Homo sapiens: one gene and its partner. The gene in region 2 interacts genetically with the main gene of each other region. Each region holds a gene or a part of one and is shown on either strand. Other genes may lie near its edges.

Region 1 (4,352 bases), on a different chromosome or scaffold from region 2:
TCAGCCTCCCAAATAGCTGGGACTACAGGCATGTGCTACCACGCCTGGCTAATTTTTTTTGTATTTTTAGTAGAGATGGGGTTTCACCATGTGGGTCAGGCTGGTCTAGAACTCCTGACCTCAAATGATCTGCCCACCTCGGCCTCCCAAAGTGCTGGGATTACAGGCGTTGAGACACCGCGTCCTGCCAAAAAATTATGGTAATGTTTTATTGCACGTTTGGGTAGAAATGACAAAGTTTTTGGGGTCCCTGCCTTTGAGATGCTTTTACTTGTAGGTGGTGGAGACAATCAAACACAAATTGCACAAAGCTATAGGAGAGGGGGGATAGACCAATATTTATCTAAGACCGCACTGGATGTTAGATATTGTCAACTTATAGATGTGAATATATTTTTACATTTTTCACTAGGGAAATGTTGCTTTTGGACGTGTACATATAGAACTAATTGAAGTATTGAAGCCAAATCTGGGAAGGTTTCTTTTAGGAAGAAAAGAGCAAGTGGAGACACAATATTTAAGACTTTTGGAATTGAAAGGCATAAGGGACAGATAAAATTACGAAGCTGGTTTGAAGGGAATACAGATAGAGGTTGTTGAGTAGTGTTAGGGTCAGTTGTGTTTGTGTAGACACATGATTACAGTTCAAAGAAGCAACTGAGAAGAGTGTTCCTGAGAGTAATTTCAGATGACTGGGGAGAAATTACATTTTAGGTAAAAGCTGTATGCCTGGATTAGGATTTTGTTTTTCTAGGGAACCAACATTTTTATTATATCGTGGCTATCCAGGGCTATACAGAAGGAGGAGTGAAAAAGAAGATGCTTAGTGTGTTGAAAGTGGCTTCTTACAAAAAAGAGTTTAGAAATGGGACAGTAGACTTTGCTTTGGATGTGAAATTTTAGGGCAACAATTGGATACTGGTGCAGTTTCAAAACAGCAAAATAGTTTAGCAGGTAATATACTGAAAATGTAAAGTTGGAATTATTTTCAAAGTATTTAGGTTTCCCAGAGTACTGATGGAAAGTGAAGAGCTGAAAAGTGGGTATTTTTAGTTAGGGGGAAAATCTGAATGAATGAGACACTACCTAAAATAGATGTTTTAGAAGTGGATAAGAGTTGAAGTTAAAAAGGAATGAGCAGGCTTTAAACATGGCCACCAGTTTAGTCCCAGGGTATATTATTCTGTATTTTTGAAACAAGCTAAAATTTTTTTTTTTTTTTAAATAGGGTATATAGGTCCCTTGAGATTAAGTTCAGAAGAGTATACTTAATAATAATTTCATTGTTAAGGAATTTATAAATAGAAGGACAGATTTGTTTCCTCAAATTCATGTTTTAAAGTTCACTGTGCATTATTATCCTACGTTTGGTCTTGATATGACGAAGTGAGGCCAAAAATAGCTGACAGAGAAGGCTGCTTCCCTTGTTCACAGTTGGTGTGTGTCTTTGTGTCCCATACAATGGAGGGGATATCCCTGTGTAGGCACAGTAGTGCTGAACATGCTTTTTTTTTTTTTTTCCTTTTAAACTTTTTATTAAAAAAAAGCAACTTGGCATTTAAAAAAATGTAGACATTTTTGCGGCTTGCATTTAGTATTGACTTTAACAGGATTAAGGATTGTGAGGAAGGAAATATATATTCACACTTTTTTGTGTTCCTTAGTTGGAATTCTGCACCTTCCTAGTAGCTTCTCTGACTTCTTAACAGTGATTATTCAAATGGCAGAAACTCTGGGGAAGAGATGTTTCAACAAGGAGATAGGTCTAAGGTGATTCTAGGGTGAAAATATAGGGATTGGATTATATGCCATATGGAGGCCTTCTCTTGTCATCCTCCACTTTCCACAACATTTTTTGTGCAGTCGAAGCCATGTTCAGATGAATTTTAGAAGGCAGCCACTTATAGTTAATGTTATTTACTAGTGAGGACAGTGGGAAGAGTGGTAACTTCATGTACTTTGCCTTGGCAACTTTTGGATTGATAGGGAATTAGAGAGCCTTGAGGGTATATGTTTGTGTGTGTGTGTGTGTTTTAGCACCCACCAGATGACCCCAAAGGCCATGCATAGGCTCATTTCATTGTACTTTGGAGATGGTTCTTGGAGAAGTCTTCTGGTGCTTCTGACATCTCATTGTGTAGAGAAAGAGTTGGCAAACTATTTTTGTAAAGGGCCAGTTAGTAAATATTTTAGGTTTTACAGGCCACATGATCTGTCACAACTTTCAATTCTGTTCTTATAGTGTGAAAGCAGCTGTAGACAACAAGGAAGTGAATGAATGTTGCCGTGCTCCAATTGGCCCATAGGCCGAAGTTTTTGGACTCCTGGTATAGACAACTGCCAAATCCACCAACAAACAGTATGAGCTTTATTACACTACAAAGCCAGGACTGGCTATTTTTGGTGGTCTTTGTTTTCTAGATGAGATGTTTTTCTCTGAGTTCATTTAAAATGATTCTGCATAAAGCACATACTCTACTGTACAAAATACTTTTGCCTTCATGGTGATGAAAACTATGGATTGAGGGTCGGGGTGATACCATCTTTAAAGGGATGCAGCTAAAAAGTAGGGACTACCTGCATTTCTTATCTAAAGATAACCACAGTTGGCATTTAGTGATATACTGGCTTTGTATCATGGCCAAAAGTATCTGTAAAGAAGCTTGTGGGCATACTTTTGAAACCTTCTGAAAATAAATGTAAAGCATTTACTTCGTGTGTAAAATTAGAAGTGTCTATGGTTGGTTTGAATAATATGAGTCAAATTATAAGAGCATTAAAGTTTGATACTGCTATCTATTAAAGTCTTAATCTCTTGCAGTGGCTAATTCAGTGTGTAGAATTACACATCGCAATTTTTGTTTTGTTAATTTCAAGTACTAGTGTATATTAACAAATCACTTAAATCATTTAAATGTGTACTTTAAAAAGCTTTGATGTATATACATATATATACGTATATATATATATGTACACGTATATATATACACGTGTGTGTGTGTGTGTGTGTGTGTGTGTGTGTATTTTTTTTTTTTTTGTGACGGGGTCTCATTCTGTCACCCAGGCTGGAGTGCTGTGGTGTGATCTCAGCTCACTGCAACCTCCACCTCCTGGGCTCAAGTCATCCTCCTACCTCAGCCTCTCGAGTGGCTGGGATCACAGGCATGCGCCACCATGCCCGACTAATTTTTTTGTATTTTTGATAGAGATGGGTAACAACTTTTGGATTGATAGGGAATTAGAGAGCCTCGAGGGTATATGTGTGTGTGTTTTAGCACCCACCAGGTAACCCCAAAGGCCATGCATCATGTTGCCCAGGCTGGTCTCTTAACTCCTGAGCTCAGGTAATCCATCTACCTCGACCTCCCTCAGTGCTGGGATTGCAGGCGTGAGCCACCACACCTGGCCAGCATTGCTATATTTTTAAGAGTGAATCTTTCTCACATGTGTTGTTCAGAAAGTGTAATTCACTTTGTGCAATTTTACATTACAGTTAATATTAAAATATTTGTTTCATATGTCAGCAGATACCAACATTGGATGATGGTATATTTAGTTTCATAAATCCTATTTATTTTAGGATTCCCTTGTTTATGGCAGGGGTGGAGATTACTCTTGCAATAATGATCACTTTTTAGTTAGTTTGAAACCTGCTTTTAGTTTATATGTAGTATTTCTACATATTGTTACTTAAATTGAACTAACAATTTACTTTTTAATTTTTCTTCTTCCTTTTAAAAAAAGAGTATATAATCTGACAATGTTAGTACATCTTTTAGAAGGTCACTATAAAGTTGCTTTCCCTATTTATTTGGAAAGGATTATTTCCTTATTATTTTAAAAAATCTTTTAATTTTTGTCTTTTCAAGTAATTTTATCATTGTCCCAAGCCTAAGGATGAGTGGCAATTTAAAAGACACAAGGTGTGCATCTTCTATCTGCAAATACTCCAAACAGAAATTATTCCAGTTTGTTGATACTTTGAGTGGACCAGGGAAAAATGTGTATGTTTTTAGTGTAACTGAATTGTCATTACAAAAAGATGAGTAAAGTTGCTGTTAAATAATGAATTCTTGCTGTTAATTTGTCCTGTTCTTAGACTTTCCCCCATTAAGTATAATGGGGGAAAATGTACACACACACACACACACACAAAGTATGTATGTGTAGATATACCTAGCGTATTGTGCTAGATGTTCATTTCTGCATGACTGCTCTGGAATTTAGGCAATATTAAAAGACCTTACAAAATATTTTTAATATCACTTAATATCCTGTTTTATGTCTTAATGTACTTTTATGTTTTTGCTGCTTTCTGATGATACCTCCTTGGTACTTCCTCATGATACCTT
Region 2 (5,007 bases):
TCCAGGTGGGGTGGTGGTGTTTGCCGTCAACTCGCTGTTGTACCTGAACCAGAGCGTCCCCCCGTATGGCGTGGCTCTCAACAGCCTCACCACAGGAACCACGGCTTTCCCGCTTCGTGAGTGTGGGGTGGCTGGGGCGGGGGGGGCCCGGGGACGGCTTGGGCCTGCCTAGTCGGCCTGACCACCCACCCCACAGGCACCCAGGAGGGTGTGCGGATCACCCTGGACTGCGCCCAGGCCACCTTCATCTCCTACGACAAGATGGTCATCTCCCTCAAGGGCGGCGAGATGTGAGCCCCTCCCCCGCCCATGAACTCTGCCCACACCGCCCCCCACAAGTCCTGTAGGGTCCCCTGGCCCCCTTCACTCCCCCAGGGTCCCCATCCCCGACTCAGAATTCTCCCTGCCCCCAGCTACGTGCTGACCCTCATCACCGACGGCATGCGCAGTGTCCGAGCGTTCCACTTTGACAAGGCGGCCGCCAGCGTCCTCACCACCAGCGTGAGTTGGGACTAGGGGTTGGGTCTGGGTCCAGACCCGGCCCAGCCATCACACACCTGCCCTCCCTCAGATGGTCACCATGGAGCCCGGGTACCTGTTCCTGGGTTCTCGCCTGGGCAATTCCCTCCTCCTCAAGTACACGGAGAAGCTGCAGGAGCCCCCGGCCAGTGCTGTCCGTGAGGCTGCCGACAAGGTGGGTTTCCTGGGCCCATTGGGCCACCACCCTTCATGTGGGCACTGCTGTGGCATGCCACTCAGTGCCCCTCCTGCCTCACAGGAAGAGCCTCCCTCAAAGAAGAAGCGAGTGGATGCGACGGCCGGCTGGTCAGGTGAGGGCCGGTCCAGGGCTGGTCAGGAGCGGGGCCAGGTGACCCAGGGCTGCGCTCAAGTGGGCTCTCTGTGTGCAGCTGCGGGTAAGTCGGTGCCGCAGGATGAGGTGGACGAGATTGAAGTGTACGGCAGCGAGGCCCAGTCGGGAACACAGCTGGCCACCTACTCCTTTGAGGTGAGATTGAGGCAGCAGGGCCCCCGTCCCAGCCAGCGCCCCCAGCGGGCCCCTGACTCTTGCTGTGCCGCAGGTGTGTGACAGCATCCTGAACATTGGACCCTGTGCCAATGCCGCCGTGGGCGAGCCTGCCTTCCTCTCTGAAGAGGTGCCCAGGGTTGGGGTCGGGGCTGGGGGCAGGGGCTGGAGTGTGAGGGGGGGTGGGGGGCATAGTCCTCACCCCCGAGTCCTGTGCAGTTTCAGAACAGCCCCGAGCCGGACCTGGAGATTGTGGTTTGCTCCGGCCACGGGAAGAACGGGGCTTTGTCGGTGCTGCAGGTGTGTGGGCAGGTAGGGGGCGGGCGCCTCCTGGTGGGACCTGGGTGGGCTCACACCCCCATCACACCCCCACCCCATCATCATTCTAGAAGAGCATCCGGCCCCAGGTGGTGACAACCTTTGAGCTTCCCGGCTGCTATGACATGTGGACAGTCATCGCCCCGGTGCGTAAGGAGGAGGTAGGTGCGAGCCTGCTGCAGGGAGGCCCTGGGATGGGACCGGCGCTGCCTTCTCATAGGCCGGGGGTGCCCAGGTCGCACCTGCGTGCCTGCCTTCACTGGACTGTGGCTTCCAGCCTGCCCCCCTTTGGCCCTGACAGGAGGACAATCCCAAGGGGGAGGGCACAGAGCAGGAACCCAGCACCACCCCTGAAGCAGACGACGACGGCCGCAGACACGGATTCCTGATTCTGAGCCGGGAAGACTCCACCATGGTGAGGGGCAGGGCCTGGGACCTGGGACCTGGGGCTGGGGTCCCCTGCGGGGGGCGCCTCCCTCACAGCTGTCGCCCGCAGATCCTGCAGACGGGGCAGGAGATCATGGAGCTGGACACCAGTGGCTTCGCCACTCAGGGCCCCACGGTCTTTGCTGGGAACATCGGGGACAACCGCTACATTGTCCAAGTGTCACCACTGGGCATCCGCCTGCTGGAAGGAGGTAGGTGGGGGGGGTGGTTGGGCCCTGGGCATCTGCCTGCTGGAAGGAGGTAGGTGGGTGGGGACGGTGGGGGGGAGGTGGTTGGGCCCTGGGCATCCGCCTGCTGGAAGGAGGTAGGTGGGTGGGGACGGTGGTGGGGAGGCGCATGCTGACTGCCCCATGCCTACAGTGAATCAGCTGCACTTCATCCCCGTGGACCTGGGCGCCCCCATCGTGCAGTGCGCCGTGGCCGACCCCTATGTGGTCATCATGAGTGCCGAGGGCCACGTCACCATGTTCCTGCTGAAGAGTGACTCCTACGGTGGCCGCCACCACCGCCTGGCGCTGCACAAGCCCCCGCTGCACCATGTAGGCCCCCTCATTCCCGGCGCCCTCCTGTCCCTGCCCCTTGCCCGCCGCTGAGCCCACCCCTCTCCCCGCAGCAGTCCAAGGTGATTACGCTGTGCCTGTACCGAGACCTCAGCGGCATGTTCACCACTGAGAGCCGCCTGGGTGGGGCCCGTGACGAGCTCGGGGGCCGCAGTGGCCCGGAGGCCGAGGGCCTGGGCTCAGAGACTAGGTGCGTGGGGGCTGGGGGCGCAGGTAGGGGCTTGGGTCCCTGGGGCTGGCAGGCCGCCCATGACCTTCTGCTGGCCCCCAGCCCCACAGTGGATGACGAGGAGGAGATGCTGTATGGGGATTCGGGCTCCCTCTTCAGCCCCAGCAAGGAGGAGGCCCGAAGAAGCAGCCAGCCCCCTGCTGACCGGGACCCTGCACCCTTCCGGGCAGAGCCTACCCACTGGTGCCTGCTGGTGCGGGAGAATGGCACCATGGAGGTAGGTGGTGCCCTGCACTGTGGCCCAGCGGGTTCCACCCACCTGCCTCCACTGACTGCTGCCCACCCTGCAGATCTACCAGCTTCCCGACTGGCGGCTGGTGTTCCTGGTGAAGAACTTCCCTGTGGGGCAGCGGGTCCTTGTGGACAGCTCCTTTGGACAGCCCACTACACAGGGCGAGGCCCGCAGGGAGGAGGCCACGCGCCAGGGGGAGCTGCCCCTCGTCAAGGAGGTGCTGCTGGTGGCGCTGGGCAGCCGCCAGAGCAGGCCCTACCTGCTGGTGAGTGCGCCTGGCCTGGCCTCCCCTTCCCATCTTCCCCCTGGCCCTGCCCGTTCCCCCACAGCCCCGCCCCTTCCCGTGGCTCCACCCCATCTCCCCCACGGCCCCGCCCCTTCCCGTGGCTCCACCCCATCTCCCTCACAGCCCCGCCCCTTCCCATACATGGCTCCACCCCATCTCAGCCCCGCCCCTTACCCACAGCCCACCTCTTCCCATGGCCCATCCCATGTTCTCCATGGCCCTGCCCGTTCCCCCATGGCTCCCCTCATCCTGCCAGGTGCATGTGGACCAAGAGCTGCTTATCTACGAGGCCTTCCCCCACGACTCTCAGCTCGGCCAGGGCAATCTCAAAGTCCGCTTTAAGAAGGTGCCAGTGGCTGGACTGCTGGGGCGTGGGGTGGGTGTGGTACAAGGTGTGGGTTTCAGACCGGCAGCCCCTGGAGGACCTGCATGGTTCCCCCCCAGGTCCCTCACAACATCAACTTCCGTGAGAAGAAGCCAAAGCCATCCAAGAAGAAAGCAGAAGGTGGCGGCGCAGAGGAGGGGGCTGGGGCCCGGGGCCGCGTGGCGCGTTTCCGCTACTTCGAGGATATTTATGGCTACTCAGGGGTAGGCCAGCGCCTTTGCAGGGGTCTGTGGTAGAAGGGAGACGCGGCCTCATCCGCAGCATCCTCATCCACAGCATCCTCACGGTGCCTGCCCCCAGGTCTTCATCTGCGGCCCCTCCCCTCACTGGCTCTTGGTGACCGGCCGAGGGGCTCTGCGGCTACACCCCATGGCCATCGACGGCCCGGTCGACTCTTTCGCTCCATTCCACAATGTCAACTGTCCCCGCGGCTTCCTGTACTTCAACAGACAGGTGGGGCCCGGCCGGTTCCCAGCAGCACTGGCTGATGCTGCCCCAGCTGGGGGCTGAGGGGGAGGGGACAGGAGAAGGGACCATTGGCTCCACCCTGAGGACCAGGAAGGAGTGTCCAGAGGGCGATGGGGTTGAGGTCGAGGAGGTGGAACCTGTGACTTGGTTGCTCCAAAGGTCTGGAAAGGGGTGGTTGGGAGCTGGGGCTGCAGCCCCTGGGGTCCCCACCACTGCTCTGCCGGCTCGCCGGGCAAGCCCTCGCAGGGCCTGGCCTCCACACTTCTCAGGAGAGCTGACGTGAGTGCTAGCTCTGCCCCTTGGCTGCTCTGTGACTTTGGGAGGGCACACAGGCTTTCTCATCCTGGTTCCCTATTTAAGCCACCACACCACCAGGTCACTTGAGACCCTGCCTGGGATGCGGTGAGTGCTTCCTGGGTGCCTGAGGACTCAGGACTGTCCATGAAAGAGGGCAGCCCTGGCTCCCTCTGCCTGGTTTTCAGTCCCCAGCATGGCAGTCTGTGGGCTGCCCTTTGCAGCCTCCAGTGCCCTCCTGGCCTAGCTTTCCCATCCCCTGTGGCCAGCACCCCTAGCCCCAGCTGAGCGTGGGAAAATGGACAGGAGGAGCCCCAGAGGCTGAGTGGCAGCCCCTTCCAGGACCTCGCCAGGACACAGCTGCCCCTCACCCACCCCTGCTCCCACAGAGCTGAGGGCAACATCCCAGGGCTCTTGGCGGCCTGGGCCTGCCTGCCCCTGCCCTTGGCTAGCCCTGGATCCCCTGACCCCTGTGCCCCCACCCCAGGGCGAGCTGAGGATCAGTGTCCTGCCTGCCTACCTGTCCTATGATGCCCCATGGCCTGTCAGGAAGATCCCGCTGCGCTGCACGGCCCACTATGTGGCTTACCACGTGGAGTCTAAGGTCTGCCCCCACCCCCACCCCACCAGGGACCTTCTGGGCCTGGCCGGGCCACTGGTGTGTGACCCTCACTAACCCACAGGTGTATGCTGTGGCCACCAGCACCAACACGCCGTGTGCCCGCATCCCACGCATGACTGGCGAGGAGAAGGAGTTTGAGACC

Evidence for each region. Genes that interact genetically often act in the same process or in processes that back each other up.
Region 1: changes in CPSF1 (region 2) and FBXW7 are lethal when combined (synthetic lethality), as found in Homo sapiens cells (one study listed by BioGRID).

The regions. Positions count from the first base shown.
Region 1 is NC_000004.12:152,528,741-152,533,092, reverse strand, and holds part of FBXW7 (F-box/WD repeat-containing protein 7), read left to right. Parts: intron 1-2,242; exon of another isoform or gene 2,243-4,352. UniProt on the Homo sapiens protein: Substrate recognition component of a SCF (SKP1-CUL1-F-box protein) E3 ubiquitin-protein ligase complex which mediates the ubiquitination and subsequent proteasomal degradation of target proteins.
Region 2 is NC_000008.11:144,395,275-144,400,281, reverse strand, and holds part of CPSF1 (cleavage and polyadenylation specificity factor subunit 1), read left to right. Parts: exon of another isoform or gene 1-5; coding exon 6-116; exon of another isoform or gene 117-196; coding exon 197-290; intron 291-413; coding exon 414-501; intron 502-571; coding exon 572-694; intron 695-778; coding exon 779-830; intron 831-908; coding exon 909-1,006; intron 1,007-1,079; coding exon 1,080-1,154; intron 1,155-1,243; coding exon 1,244-1,324; intron 1,325-1,413; coding exon 1,414-1,503; intron 1,504-1,643; coding exon 1,644-1,757; intron 1,758-1,838; coding exon 1,839-1,980; intron 1,981-2,051; exon of another isoform or gene 2,052-2,093; intron 2,094-2,149; coding exon 2,150-2,328; intron 2,329-2,402; coding exon 2,403-2,539; intron 2,540-2,620; coding exon 2,621-2,795; intron 2,796-2,868; coding exon 2,869-3,075; intron 3,076-3,352; coding exon 3,353-3,442; intron 3,443-3,540; coding exon 3,541-3,684; intron 3,685-3,781; coding exon 3,782-3,934; intron 3,935-4,730; coding exon 4,731-4,847; and 2 more. UniProt on the Homo sapiens protein: Component of the cleavage and polyadenylation specificity factor (CPSF) complex that plays a key role in pre-mRNA 3'-end formation, recognizing the AAUAAA signal sequence and interacting with poly(A) polymerase and other factors to bring about cleavage and poly(A) addition.